Homo sapiens: one gene and its partners. The protein of the gene in region 1 interacts with the protein of each later gene in a biochemical or structural test. Each region holds a gene or a part of one and is shown in the gene's direction. Other genes may lie near its edges.

What was found. The genes of interacting proteins can lie anywhere in the genome.
Region 2: the proteins of ERCC6 (region 1) and CTSB form a complex in vitro, tested with the Homo sapiens proteins (one large-scale study listed by BioGRID).
Region 3: the proteins of ERCC6 (region 1) and FOSL1 form a complex in vitro, tested with the Homo sapiens proteins (one large-scale study listed by BioGRID).
Region 4: the proteins of ERCC6 (region 1) and RPS15A form a complex in vitro, tested with the Homo sapiens proteins (one large-scale study listed by BioGRID).

The regions. Positions count from the first base shown.
Region 1 is NC_000010.11:49,525,622-49,529,121, reverse strand, and holds part of ERCC6 (DNA excision repair protein ERCC-6), read left to right. Parts: intron 1-596; coding exon 597-705; intron 706-3,500. UniProt on the Homo sapiens protein: Involved in repair of DNA damage following UV irradiation, acting either in the absence of ERCC6 or synergistically with ERCC6. Involved in the regulation of gene expression.
Region 2 is NC_000008.11:11,847,588-11,851,087, reverse strand, and holds part of CTSB (cathepsin B isoform 1 preproprotein), read left to right. Parts: intron 1-107; coding exon 108-222; intron 223-1,923; coding exon 1,924-2,042; intron 2,043-2,935; coding exon 2,936-3,021; intron 3,022-3,265; coding exon 3,266-3,409; intron 3,410-3,500. UniProt on the Homo sapiens protein: Thiol protease which is believed to participate in intracellular degradation and turnover of proteins. Cleaves matrix extracellular phosphoglycoprotein MEPE. Involved in the solubilization of cross-linked TG/thyroglobulin in the thyroid follicle lumen.
Region 3 is NC_000011.10:65,894,469-65,897,388, reverse strand, and holds part of FOSL1 (fos-related antigen 1), read left to right. Parts: intron 1-382; coding exon 383-580; intron 581-2,920.
Region 4 is NC_000016.10:18,787,535-18,791,739, reverse strand, and holds the start of RPS15A (small ribosomal subunit protein uS8), read left to right. Parts: upstream 1-1,405; 5' UTR 1,406-1,496; intron 1,497-2,621; 5' UTR 2,622-2,626; coding exon 2,627-2,759; intron 2,760-3,597; coding exon 3,598-3,677; intron 3,678-4,205.

The DNA.
Region 1 (3,500 bases):
GTGATGTGGAAGGGAACAAGACAAAGAGGAGTCTGGCGTGGCCAGGGTGGAGAGGCATGGCAAGATATATTTTTTTCTTAAAGCTTTTTGATTAGGTAGAATACTAAAAGGACAGTCATAAATATAGTAGGTTATCAAAGGAGACTAACTTTTTCAATTGAACATTTGTGTTTTTATTTCTTATCTTATGGCCTGTTGACTTCCATAGCCCATTGGTTCTGAATCAGAAATACAGAGTAGTTTAGGGATTTGCCCAGTGTGTAAGGGGGAAACCAAGTAGAACAAGTCCACCTTTCAGGTCAGTGCCCATGTATTTAAGGGCTCGGGCACATAGAAGGCAGTCTGCCGTCCTCAGGAGAGCATGGGGGTGCAGGCATGCCTGTCTGCTGGGAATATTCACGGCCCCTTTACTCCTAGAAAAGTGGTAGTTGCTCACATAGGGCTCTCTAGTAATAGTAATGTATGGAATTTTTATGTAATGTATATTATTTTTATTTTACTTTGGATTTAAGTTTAAAATTTCATAATGCTATCTTTTGTATTTAACAATAAATCACTTCATTGCTGTTTTCTGTCTTCTATATTTACCATTCAAGGAACAACAGCTAAAAAAGATCACTGCAAAACAAAAGCATCTCCAGGCCATCCTTGGAGGAGCAGAGGTGAAAATTGAACTAGATCACGCCAGTCTGGAGGAGGATGCAGGTGAGGATGCTAGGAGCAGTTTCTCTGTGTTCTTGAATTGATGCCTGATGCCTGTAGTCAGTGGAGGGTGTCTCTTTAGTCTTTGCCTGGGTTTTGAGAAAAATACGTTTCTTTGCCTTAGTGTCAAAACAGATTTAGGAAAATTTTATTCTCTACACCTGCAGAACCAAATCCCTCTCAAAGAGAATTAAAGTAAACTTTTAACTCAGTTCATAGGAGGCTGCTGGTACACATTTATTATTACATTTAATACACTGGAAATCTTAAACATTCTTATTTTGTTAATTTGATAAAGACAACTAGCATCATGATTAAATTACATGTTGGAAGCCCAACATCATTAATCGCATTTGTAGAATGGCTCTCACGTGTCTTTAAAGAGCGTATTTGGCAGGCTTTCCAAGCATCAGTTTAAGAAAAGACATCTTCATTCAGGTACTCTGGGCAGTATTTCATTTACATTACTGTCTTGGATGGTTGTCTTTTGGAAAACTTTTTGGGAAAATTCGTAAGCTCTGGAACTAAATTATCTTTGCAGTCATTGTGTGTGTGTATGTGTGTGTGTGTGTACAAATTGTTGGTGGCTGCATAGGCATTGACTATTTGAAATACAGATTAAAGCTGCTTAGCATTAAATTCTCTAAGCAACTATTTTCTACTAGCTTTAGAAGTTTATTCAGTAAGATGAGAATTGTTATGAAGAATTAATTGAAGCAATAGAAAAAAATATGTATATTTTTGAAACAGAGTTTCGTTCTTGTTGCCCAAGTTTGGAGTGCAATGGCACCATCTCAGCTCACTGCAACCTCTGCCTCCCGGGTTCAAGCGATTCTCCTGCCTCAGCCTCCCAAGTAGCTGGATTACAGGCGCATACCACCATGCCCAGCTAATTTTTTGTATTTTTAGTAGAAACAGGGTTTCACCATGTTAGCCAAGCTGGTCTCGAACTCCTGACGTCAGGTGATCTGCTCACCTTGGCCTCCCAAAGTACTGGGATTACAGGTGTGAGCCACTGCACCCAGCCCAAAAGTACGTGGTTTTAAAGTTCAGCCTCTCAGAATTCATTAGGCCTATGACCAGTGCTTTTAACTGCTGTGTACTATGTTTCTCATTGATAACAGATGTTTGTTCCTGTCTGGCCGTCTCAGATCTGCTGTTGTCTTTCACCTCCTACTGTGACTTTGGTAGTAGGGTTAATAGCTACCTCTTAGGGTTAATAGCTAAAACTTTGGTAGTAGGGTTAATAGCTACATTGTCTAGGGTTAATAGCTACCTCCTCAAATCCAAGAGCCCCTTTTTATCCTTGTTCCACTCTGCCTGTCCACAGCAGCTGACACTTCTGTTCCTTGTGGGATCCCTGCTTCTCTACTGGTTTTCTTTTTAGCCCTCTGACTACTTCTGCATAGTTATTTCTGGCCATATCTTAAATATTGATGTTTCTCAGGATTTCTTTGAGCCCTCTTCTTGTTCTACTGCCTCTCCCTGGTTATCTATTCCCCATGGCTTTTGCAGCCACCTAGGTTCTACTAGTACCTTATACAGATCTGTAGACATCTGGCTTTGCTCTTTTTTTGAGTTCCTGGTTCCTATTATATCTCTCCGTCTGGACACCAGCCAACACTTGAAGACATGAACTGAAATTGGAAGTTACACCATAACTGTAAAGTCACCCAGAAAGTATCCCTCTTTCATTAGTTGAAATTCATCTCCGGCAAAATTACCACATAACCAAAATACCAAAAGACCTAAGGCTTAATAGGAAGCAAAATACTCAGTGTAAAGACCTAAGGCTTAATTGAGGCAAAATACTCAGTGTAAAGGAAAAGATTTGTTAAATGGACTATATATAAAACCAAGAACTTCTGTTCATCAGAAGATAGCATTTAGGGCAAGATACTGAGCTGGGGAAGATATTTGCAATACATGTGTGAATCAAAGGACTCAAATCTAGGATGTATAAAGAACTAGAAATCATTTAAAGAAACAGACAAACAAAAATGGGCGAAAGACTGGAACACTTCCTACACAAAAAAGGCTATCCAAAAGATAAATTCATGAAAGGCACCTATTTTGTTAGTCATCAGGGAAATGTAAATTATAGCCATAATGTGGTACCACTACACATCTACCAAAATAGCTAACATGGAATGGCAAGAATATACACCAGTTGGAACTTTCTGACACAGTTGATGGGGACTTTGGAACGTAACACTTTGGAAAACTGACAGTGTCTACTAAAGCTTAGCATACCCAGATATATATATATATATATATATATATATATATATATATATATATAAAAATATATAAATATATAAATATATAAATATAAATAAAACCAAAAGATGTGCATCAGAATATTCATAGCAACATTATTCCTAGTAGCCAAAACCTGGAAGCCACTCAAATGTGCATTAACAGTGAGAGTTAACAAACTACAGCTACATTCAACAGTAAGGATGCAGCTCAAAAGCATAATGTTGGGTGAAGGAAGGTGGACACAGGGCACAAACATTTCCACTTACGTAGCGTTCAGAGACAGGCACAACTTGTCTGTACGTTAGGAGTCCAGGTCCATCATTATCTTGGGGGGCGTAGAGGCTGGGAGGTAGCCTGAAGGGCTCATCTGGTGGTGCTAGTAATTCTGTTAGTTGATATGGCTGCTAGTTTATGAGTACATTTTTTCTGAATATTCACTGAGTTCTACACTTAATGATTTGTGCACTTTCAGATGTATGTTTTATTTCAGTGCAAGTTTAATGAAAAACTGGGTATCATTGGCCTGCAAGAATTGT
Region 2 (3,500 bases), on another chromosome or scaffold:
GCTCATTTCCTTGTTAGGGGAGTGTGGCCCAGCCAAAGTGGCCTTTGCAGGGATTGGGGAGGGAGTTGTGGGATCAGAGCTTGTAATGAAGACCTTCCTTTATCCAGAGTTATGTTTACCGAGGACCTGAAGCTGCCTGCAAGCTTCGATGCACGGGAACAATGGCCACAGTGTCCCACCATCAAAGAGATCAGAGACCAGGGCTCCTGTGGCTCCTGCTGGGTAAGGCCCTGCTGGCTGGCGGGGAAGCGCTGGAGAGAAAGTGGGAGCAACACTGGAGAGTCTTGGGGGATTCGGGGTGGGGACAACTCTGACAAGGCAAGTTATAGAAACTTTCTGAGTCCCAGTTTCCATCAGTACAAAAATCACAATCCCTCTGGCCATGAATGATGGCGAGGATTAGGTGGAGTGGCGGGCAGAGCATCCAGCAGATTGCAAGTCCACGTGTACAGGTGGCGAAGCAGCTCCCTTTCCCTGACATGCTGGCCCGTCCGCAAATACCAGGAGCTCTCACTGCTACTCTGCTTCAAGAAAGCATCCCTTTAGTGTCAGTGAGCTGTCTTAATTTTGTCATTTAATTGTGGTAAAATACACGTAACAGAAATGTAATAATCTTAGCAATCTTCTTTTGTTTTCTTTTTCTTTCTTTTTTTTTTTTTTTTTTTTTTGGAGATGGAGTCTTGCTCTGTCACCCAGGCTGGAGTGCAGTGGTGGGATATTGGCTCACTGCAACCTCTGCCTCCTGGGTTCAAGCAATTCTCCTGCCTCAGTCTCCCCAGTAGCTAAGACTACAGGCATGTGCCACCACGCCCAGCTAATTTTTGTATTTTTAGTAGAGATGGGGTTTTGCCATGTTGGACAGCCTGGTCTCAAACGCCTCACCTGTTGATCTGCCTTCCTCGGCCTCGCAAAATGCTGGGATTACAGGCGTGAGCCACCGTGCCCAGCAACTATTTTCAAGTGTACAGTTCTGTAGCATTAAGTACATTCACAGTGTTGCTCAGCCACCACCACCATCTGTCCCCCGAACTCTTTTTCAGCTCGCAAGACAGAAACTCTGTCCCCATTAACACCAATATTGTAGCCCCTGGTAAGCCCCACTCTACTTTCTGTCTCTATGAATTTGACTCCTAGGGACCTCATACAAGTGGATCACAACAGTATTTATTTTCTGGGTGAGCTGTGTTTTTTGTTAAGAAAAAAACACAGCCAGGTACGGTAGCTCACGCCTGTAATCTCAACACTTTGGGAGGCTGAGGCAGGCGGATCACCTGAGGTCAGGAGTTTGAGACCAACCTGGCCAACATGGTGAAACCCTGTCTCTACTAAAAAGACAAAACTTAGCTGGGCCTGGTGGCAGGCACCTATAATCCCAGCTACTATAGAGGCTGAGGCAGGAGAATTGCTTGAACCCAGGAGGCGTAGGTTGCAGTGAGCTGAGATTGCGCCACTGCATTCCAGCCTGGGCAACAAAAGTGAAACTCCGCCTCCAGGAAAAAAAAAAAAAACCACACACACACATACAAACTAATACTACACATTTTGCAGATTTCAGAAATGAACCCAGTTTCCAGGCAGAGGTTCACGGGGGTGCTTCTCTTGCTTTAAAAGCTGAGTTGGGCAAATCGTTGAGGCAGGAGAGTGGGGCAAGTGGCTCATCACGCCTCTAATCCCAGCACTTTGGGAGGCCAAGGTGGGCAAATCACTTGAACCCGGGAGTTCAAGACCAGTCTGGCCAACGTAGCAAGACCCCATTTCTACCAAAGAAAATAAAAGCTGAGTTTGAGCCCCAGGAGCGTCCCCTGGTGTTGAGAGATCAGTTGCCTACAAGGTCTGAGGTGCCCCTGTGGCCCTTTGAGGGGACTGCTGCAGAGGGCCCAGCCCGGACATGGCAGCCTCACCCGGTGGGGCTCGTTCCTGCAGGCCTTCGGGGCTGTGGAAGCCATCTCTGACCGGATCTGCATCCACACCAATGCGCACGTCAGCGTGGAGGTGTCGGCGGAGGACCTGCTCACATGCTGTGGCAGCATGTGTGGGGACGGGTGAGTCAGGCTGTGCTTCCACAGCGGGTTTAGTGCTGAGAGACCCTGGGCCCCAGCTTCTCAGTGGAGGGGACTTTGAGGACTTCCTGGGACTGCTGCGAGTCAGAAGTGTTTCGGGGAGACTCCGAGAGTCTGGCAGGCAGGGCCTGGCAAGGCTGCTGCTTCCTGGGAGGTGCCTGAACCAAGGCTGGCCCGGCAGAGCTGTCTGAGGGGTGGCATCCCAGCAAAACAGTCAGTTTCAGAAAATGTGGTGGAATGTCTGGCCCCTGGTCTGGTTTGTGTCATCGCATGTTCCTTTTTCCTGCTTGGGGAACCAGTTTGGGGCATTTCCTTATGTGTAGTTAGCGGGGATGGCTCCACCTTAACAACAAGGTGGTGGCACAGAACTTTCTGCTCCAGCTGCCTGCAGCCTCGCCTTGGTTCCGCAGTAGCGGTGTTCACTGGCGGCTGCAGATCCGAAATGCCTGAGGGCTTAAAAAAATGCATGGGCTTCTCCCCTAACTAGTTAAATGGGAATCACTGGCGATTCTCATTTCAGAGAACTGGTGGTGTTTTTAAGTACCTTAGGGAAGTTTAGCGTCTGCTCAGTTGAGAATCAGTGTTCTACCCGGAAGGGCACTCGTAGCCTGGTCTGGTATGGACATGAACAGGAGAGCCTCCTGTCTTCTCCCGGATCTTTGTGGGCAGGGGTGGGGCTGGCGGTTATTCCCTGCAAGCTGTGCTTATCTAGGGAGCGTCCCTTGGAGGGTTTGGGGTCTGGGAGGTCTGCTCGCACCACTTGCTGCAGCTGGGGGTGGGTCCACGAGTGGCCTCGGGCACTTGGGTAGCACACAGTGGTCTGGAGAGCTGGTGGTGCTTCTCTCAGAGGTTTTCATTAGAGGCTGTCTTTTCAGCTGTAATGGTGGCTATCCTGCTGAAGCTTGGAACTTCTGGACAAGAAAAGGCCTGGTTTCTGGTGGCCTCTATGAATCCCATGTAGGTAAGTGTGTCCCCTTGGCCACTTTCTGGCCAGATGGATTGTTTGAGCAATTAACCATCATGGCTTTATTTGCCTTTATAAACTGGGGGTTGAGACAGAGGGGCTGCTGAGAGGTGCTAGCCAGGTGCACAGGCCTCTGGCAGGACCTGCCTGGCGTCCATGCTGCAGGCACGAGGCTTGCCTTGCCCCAGGTCTTCTCCGTGGGGGCTGTAGGTTGACTCCGCTTTCTCCCGCGTCCCATCAGGGTGCAGACCGTACTCCATCCCTCCCTGTGAGCACCACGTCAACGGCTCCCGGCCCCCATGCACGGGGGAGGGAGATACCCCCAAGTGTAGCAAGATCTGTGAGCCTGGCTACAGCCCGACCTACAAACAGGACAAGCACTACGGTAAGGGGCCTGGGGCCTGGCCACGGCGCACGTGGAGGCTGGGGAGCTGCTGCATCCCTCCTCACGCTGCAGCGAAGAGGTCAGGGCTGAG
Region 3 (2,920 bases), on another chromosome or scaffold:
CAGCCTGGGCAACAGAGTGAGACTCCATCTGAAAAAAAAAAAAGAAAAAAAAGAAAGAAAAGAAAATGAAGATATTACTGTGCCAATGATATGAGTCAGTATTTGTAAAGTGGTTAGAACAGTTCCTGGCAGTTTGTGCTTTATAAATGTTAGTTCTAATGGGGAAATGGGGGCACAGAGAGGTTATGTGACCTGCCCCAAAGCCACACAGCTTATGAGCAGGGATTTGCCACCAGGTCAGTCTCTGACTGCCAAGCTGTGCTCTTTCTGTTCCCAGAGCTAGCCTGTACATTGAAGGTAGACAGCAGTGTAGCCTCTGCCCAGTGGAAGCCCCTCAATCCACACGGACCTCATCTGTGGCCTTCCATTTCTTATTCCTTAGAAGTTCCACCTGGTGCCAAGCATCAACACCATGAGTGGCAGTCAGGAGCTGCAGTGGATGGTACAGCCTCATTTCCTGGGGCCCAGCAGTTACCCCAGGCCTCTGACCTACCCTCAGTACAGCCCCCCACAACCCCGGCCAGGAGTCATCCGGGCCCTGGGGCCGCCTCCAGGGGTACGTCGAAGGCCTTGTGAACAGGTAAGGCACAGAGGCATTGCAGTGGTTCCGACCCCGCCCAGGAGTGCTAGGGTGCAGAGAAGCTCCTGCCAGAAAGGAGAGCACAGGCTTAGGAGGGGGTAAGGTAGGCTACAGGTGACTACTGCCCAAGGCTGAAAGTGATAGGAGCCCCACGGGAGGCCCAGAGGGTACAACAGTCACTTCCAGATCAGGGAAAGCTTCCTGGAAAAGGTGGCATATTAGCCTAGAAGGATGGGTAGGACTGGCAGAGGCAGAGAGGAAGGAAAGGACATTCCAGGTAGCGGGGGTGGCAGGAGCAAGGATGGAGGCGGAGGCAAGAACATGTAAGGTGCGCACACGGAATGGTGAGGGGGTCTCCACCTGCTGACATGCATAGAGGGGGCGCTTATGTTGTCTGGGAGAGAACAGGAACAAGAGGGTTCCCTTCAGCTACTCCCTCAGTCTCAGTTTCCCTGTCTCATTTAATCCTCACAAAATCTCTCTGGGGAATGTACTCTGGTTTTCCCCATCTTCCACCAAAGAAATGAAGGCACAGAAGGGTAGTCACTTGCCCAAGATCACACAAGTAGTGAGTAATGACACAGGACTGGCCTTGGCCCCAGGTCTATACAACTCTAAAGTCAGATCCTAACCACCAAACCAGGGCCAGGTGCAGTAGCTCATGCCTGTAATCCCAGCACTTTGAGAGACCTAGGCAGGAGGATCACTTGAGGCCAGGAGTTCAAGACTAGGTTGGGCAACATAGAGAGACCCTGTCTCTACCGAAAAAACAAAATAAAATAAAACCCCCAAAACTAATCACCAAGCCACGCTGTCTCACTGGAAGCTAACAGAAGGCTCAAAGTAGAGGGAACTGACAATTCTTGGCTCCCCAAAGCCCTTACCAAAATAAGTGAGTAAGAGATGGCGAGTCTTTAAAGGAGTGGCTCATCTTTCCTCTCCCTGGGGCATTTTGGTGTGGGAGACTACAGGGGATGAGGTTAAAAAGCTTGGTCGGCAGGTAGAGGATGGGGAGAGAGGTTAGGGCCCTGGGAAAGGTGAGAGATCAGCCAGAGACAGGTTTCCCAGAACAGAATGTCTGGCCTTTGTGGTGAGGAGGGACTGTGGTATGAGCCGCAGAAGCGGGCCAGGGGTAAACCCTCCTGTGCGTCCTTCCTTCAGCCTGGTCCTGAGGGTGACCCTTTGATCCTGGGTTCTCCAGGTAGGGCTGTGAGCTGTGAGTTGGATCCTTTTGGTGAAATGGTCTCTCTCATCTGGCCTGTCACTCAATGTGGAATAGAGTGAGTGAGTTCTATGGGTTCTAAGTCCTGCTCTGGAACCATAAGTAAGTTATCCTCTCTGGGCTTCAGTTTTTCATGGAAAGTTGCGTTAAGAATCTAGTTTAAGGCCAGGCATGGTGGCTCACGCCTGTAATCCCAGCACTTTGGGAGGCCAAGGAAGGTGGATCATGAGGTCAGGAGATCGAGACCATCCTGGCTAACATGATGAAACCGTGTCTCTACTAAAAAATACAAAAAATTAGCTGGGCGTGGTGGAAGGCACCTGTAGTCGCAGCTACTCGGGAGGCTGAGGCAGGAGAATGGCGTGAACCCCGGAGGCGGAGCTTGCAGTGAGCCGAGATGGCACCACTGCACTCCAGCCTGGGCAACAGAGTGAGACTCCGTCTCAAAAAAAAAAAAAAAAAAGAATCTATGTTTTTTTAAAAAAGAGGCCAGCTGTGGTGACTCCCCCTGGTAATCCAAACATTCTAGGAGGCCAGTGCAGGAGGATCCCTTGAGCCCATGAGTTCCAGACCAGCCTGGGCAACACAGTGAGACCCCGTCACTACACAAAAAAAAAAAAGAAAAAAAAAGGCCGAGCACAGTGGCTCATGCCTGTAATCCCAGCACTTTGGGAGGCTGAGGAGGGTGGATCACCTGAGGTTAAGAGTTCAAGACCAGCCTGGCCAACATGGTGAAACCTCGTCTCTACTAAAAATACAAAAATTAGCCAGGTGTGGTGGTACATGCCTGTAATCCCAGCTACTTGGGAGGCTGAGGCACGAGAATCACTTGAACCCAGTAGGTGGAGGTTGCAGTGAGCCAAGATTGGGCCAATGCACTCCAGCCTGGGAAAGAGTGAGACTCTGTCTAAAAAAAATAAAATAAAATAAAATAAAATCTTTGCATGTTCTCAGTGAAAAACAAGAATCTACGTAAAGTACTTGGCTGGCACATAGTAGTTTTCCAATAAATTGCAACTTAATCAGCAGCACTCATTAGCCCCTCCTAGTGCTTACAGCTCATGGAAGAGGAGACTTGGTTGTCCACAGATCCAGAAGGATGAGGGTCCTGCAAAGAG
Region 4 (4,205 bases), on another chromosome or scaffold:
TTTTAATCCTGTATTATTTCTTCTACTTTGTTTTGTGTAAAAGGGGAAAAAATAAAAAAAGCTGGAATCTTCATGTCTCACTTTCTTTATAACTTAGCCAATATAATATTTATGATTGGATTTATGAATCTGATTAATGAAGTACCCTGTGTGGTCCTTAGATGTCTATAAGGTACCCTACCTGTAATCCCACCACTTTGGGAGACCTGGGCAGGAGGTTCACTGGAGTCCATGAGTTTGAGGTTGCATTGAGCTGAGTGTACCCCTGCACTCTAGCCTGGGCAACAGAGCAGGACCCTGTCTAGGAAAAATTTTAAAAAAGAACAAAAATAAAAGGTTTAAGTTTTATTTAGCAAATATCCAGGTACCATGCTAGAGGGAAGAGGAAATGCAACGAATGAGCAGGGGCATTGACGTGTGAGAGAGGACGAAGCTGGAAGAACCGGCAGGGACAGAACTGGCTAAATGGTGCCTGTGTGGGCACCTCGTACCCCAGGGCCTTGCTAGCGTCTGGTACATGGGTGCTCAGTAAACAACTGTTGGGTGACTTTTGTCTGAACTTAACTTTTTAATTAAAAAAAAATTTTTAGCCGGGTGTGGTGGCTCACGCCTGTAATCCCAACACTTTGGGAGGCCGAGGTGGGCAGATCACTTGATGTCAGGGGTTTGAGACGAGCCTGGCCAACATGGTGAAACCCCGTCTCTACTAAAAATACAAAAATTAGCCGGGTGTGATGGCGGGCGCCTGTAATCCCAGGTACTCTGGAGGCTGGGGCAGGAGAACCGCTTGAACCCGGGAGGCGGAGGCTGCAGTGCGCCAAGATCGCGCCACTGGACTCCAGCCTGGGCGACAGAGCGAGACTCCTTATCAAAAGTAAACTAAAATAAAAATTAAGGCCCGCGCGGTGGCTCCCGCCTGTAATCCCAGCACTTTCGGAGGCCGAGGCGGGCGGATCGCAAGGTCAGGAGATCAAGAACATCTTCGCCAACTTGGGGAAACCTCGTCTCTACTAAAAATACAAAAATTAGCCGGGCGTGGTGGCGCATCTCTGTAGTTCCAGCTACTCAGGAGGCTGAGGCAGGAGAATCACTTGAACCCGGGAGGCGCAGGTTGCAGTGAGCCGAGATCACGCCACTGCACTCCAGTCTGGGCTACAAGAGCGAAACTGTCTCAAAAAAAAAAAAAAAATGTAGACGAACCTCCAACGAACGGCTCACCTTGCCTCTCCCAGGCCCCACCGGGGGAGGTCGATTCCATCGACTCTCAACTGCCAACCCCTGAGGAGGCTCCGCCTTTCCCTCACCCTCGTCCTTCTCCTAGGCGGTCCTTGTTTTTGCCGGGCCTTTGAAAGTCTCGCGATAGCTCTCCCGCTTCCCATAACTCCGTGCGCTCTCCCCTCCCGTCCTCTTTCCGCCATCTTTCCGCGCCGGTGAGTAGCACTCTCTGAGAGCTCCAATTTCATCCGTCTGCCATCGGCGCCATCCTGCAATCTAAGGTTCGGTCTCGGTGTCCTGCGAGGAGGCTGGTCCCCACCTTGGCCGAGGATCCTGGCCTTGCCGGTTCCTGGACAGGCATAGAGGAGAGCCATGGCTGGGCGCCCCAGACTGTGCACTCAGGGGATCCCGGTCCGTGGGGTGCAGGCCGCAGCGCGGGCGGGAGCCGGAGCCTTCGACTGCCCAGCTAGGCGGTAGCTCCGGTTCGGGCCGCAGCGTCTGGATCTCCCTTTAGTGCTGAGGCAGCGCCTTGGCCCCGGGCGGCGGGCAACATCGGGGCTGGTGGGCCGTGCAGCTTCTCACTGCTGCGGCCGCGCTGGGAGCTTGGGAGGCTGAGGCCACCCAGCAGGTAAAAGCTGCATCGTGCCGGGGTTGGCAGTTTGCTGGGTGCCAACTTGGATCTTCTGGGCCGCAGAGTTTTTCTTTAGACACTTTTGAACTTAAGGAATTTAAGTTCTACTCTTTACTATTGGCACTTTGGTCTTTCAAAACTTCAGTGTAGTGTGCGGTTCTTGCCCATTAGAAGAGAGTCCAGTCTGACAAGCATGTAAAATGTTTCTGTTTGCCACTGTGGCTCTTGCTGTTGGACGCAATTTTAAATGGCACGAAGATGGATGTTTAATAGTTAGATGTGTTCATTGTAGGTGAGAGTGAACTGATTTAAAGTACAATGTTAATAGTATGGAATCTGCTGATTTTCAGCAATTTGGAAAATGTTGCCGATGATACTCTGCTTCTGTTCTGAATCACTGATCGACTATACCCGATGTTTTCCTTCCGGTAGCTGGCAGTTTCTGCCAGTTCTCACGTTGTCTTGTGTCAAGTGGATTTTGTCCCACATTTTATTATCTCCAGACGTTGGTGTGTGGCACGATTCGAAGAAGAGTGGTTAGTGAATGAATGAGTTTCAAAATGTGCAGGCTGACGTCCCGATAACCTGTTTTCAACAACCGTAGTAAATAGGAATTTTCCTGGGTGGTGGGAAATGGAGAAGCAGCCTGCTTAGACTTGAGAAAACTTCGCCAAGGTGGGGCCAGAAAGGAAAGGATACTTCCGCAGTGTAATGGTTGGTGTCTGTTGATGTTGGCAATGCCAGTAAAACCTCCTGTTTTGTCTTCCTTGAACAGCCACAATGGTGCGCATGAATGTCCTGGCAGATGCTCTCAAGAGTATCAACAATGCCGAAAAGAGAGGCAAACGCCAGGTGCTTATTAGGCCGTGCTCCAAAGTCATCGTCCGGTTTCTCACTGTGATGATGAAGCATGGTAAGTCTGCTGCCGCTGTGTTTTATGTTTTCATGTGAGACTCTCTAAGAAATCAGTCCTGTAGAAATTAATTATGGGGGACCAAAGTATGTCTGTCATACCTGAGAACGAATGCAATTGACCTGTGGGCTGTGGAGGAGGGGATAGTCTGAAACTGCTGAAGAGTCACTTAGAGTAGGACTGCTGGAAAAAGGAGCTCTGCTAGGTGTTTGGGAGCTAAATGAATCTAAGTCATTGAAAGGACTCCTGAGCTCATTTCGAGACCAGCCTGGCCAACATGGCAAAACCCCGTCTCTACTAAAAAAACAAAAAACAAAAACAAAAATCAGCCGGTCGTGGTGGCAGGCGCCTGTAGTCCCAGCTCTTTGGAGGCTGAGGCAGGGAGAATTGTTTGAACCCAGCAGGTGGAGGTTGCAGTGAGCCGAGATCGGCCACTGCACTCCAGCCTGGGCGACAGTGCAAGACTCCATCTCAAAAAAAAAAAAAAGAAAGAAAGGACTCTTGAGATCTTCTCAGAGCTCTTTGAGAGGAAAGATTGGATTATTGCACTTCTTTGGCACAAAGTAGTCTTTGGGAATGGGAAGCAGTGAAGGAAGGGTCAAGGGGAAAATAGTTTCTTTCAGAATTGCAAGGTGGATTGTTTTGGGTATTGTCTCCCAATTCTTATATGTTAGGTTGTAAAAATTAGTTCTGATACAGAGCAACTGTCTTCCCCCCAACTTTTTGGAGAAGCAGTCACTGAGGTGATGGGAGAGTGAAGAATTGAGTAGGCTAGAGCACAGAGGTTTAGCTCTCAAGTTGATGTCTTTTATTTAATCCAGTCAGTTATCTTTTGTAGGTTACATTGGCGAATTTGAAATCATTGATGACCACAGAGCTGGGAAAATTGTTGTGAACCTCACAGGCAGGCTAAACAAGGTAAGAACGAGTGATCTACACATTTCAAAGCTTTAAGAATTTTTTACTGTGGCGTTAAATGTTGTAATTGCCTTTGGAAATACTGAGTAGTGGTGCCATACTTGATTTATCCAGTTACTTTAAAAAGGTTTAAAAATTGACACATGGAACTTCATTTGCTCTCCTGGGTTGATTGTGCTAGGATTATGTCAGTTGACCTAGTGTTTTTATGGGGTATAAGCTGTCTCAGGAGAGATGGGGGGTGAAACCAACGCTGGTACTGGTATTTGGATGTTAACGCTACCCACCTCACTGGCTTGAACTTGGGTGGCTCAAGGCCATTGAGCCTTTTGTCCAAGGTGCTGTGTCCTTCCTCTCAGTGATGTGTTGGGTTTTTTGAATGGAATCTTTATCTTTGAGTAAATGGGGCTTTCTAAATAGCAATATGAATACTTTTTCTGTTTTTGCTGGCATAGGTCTTTGGGGTCTATGCTGCTTTTCAGTTTGACTTGTCAACACCTTAACCAAGTAAAACTGACTTTGTGGTTT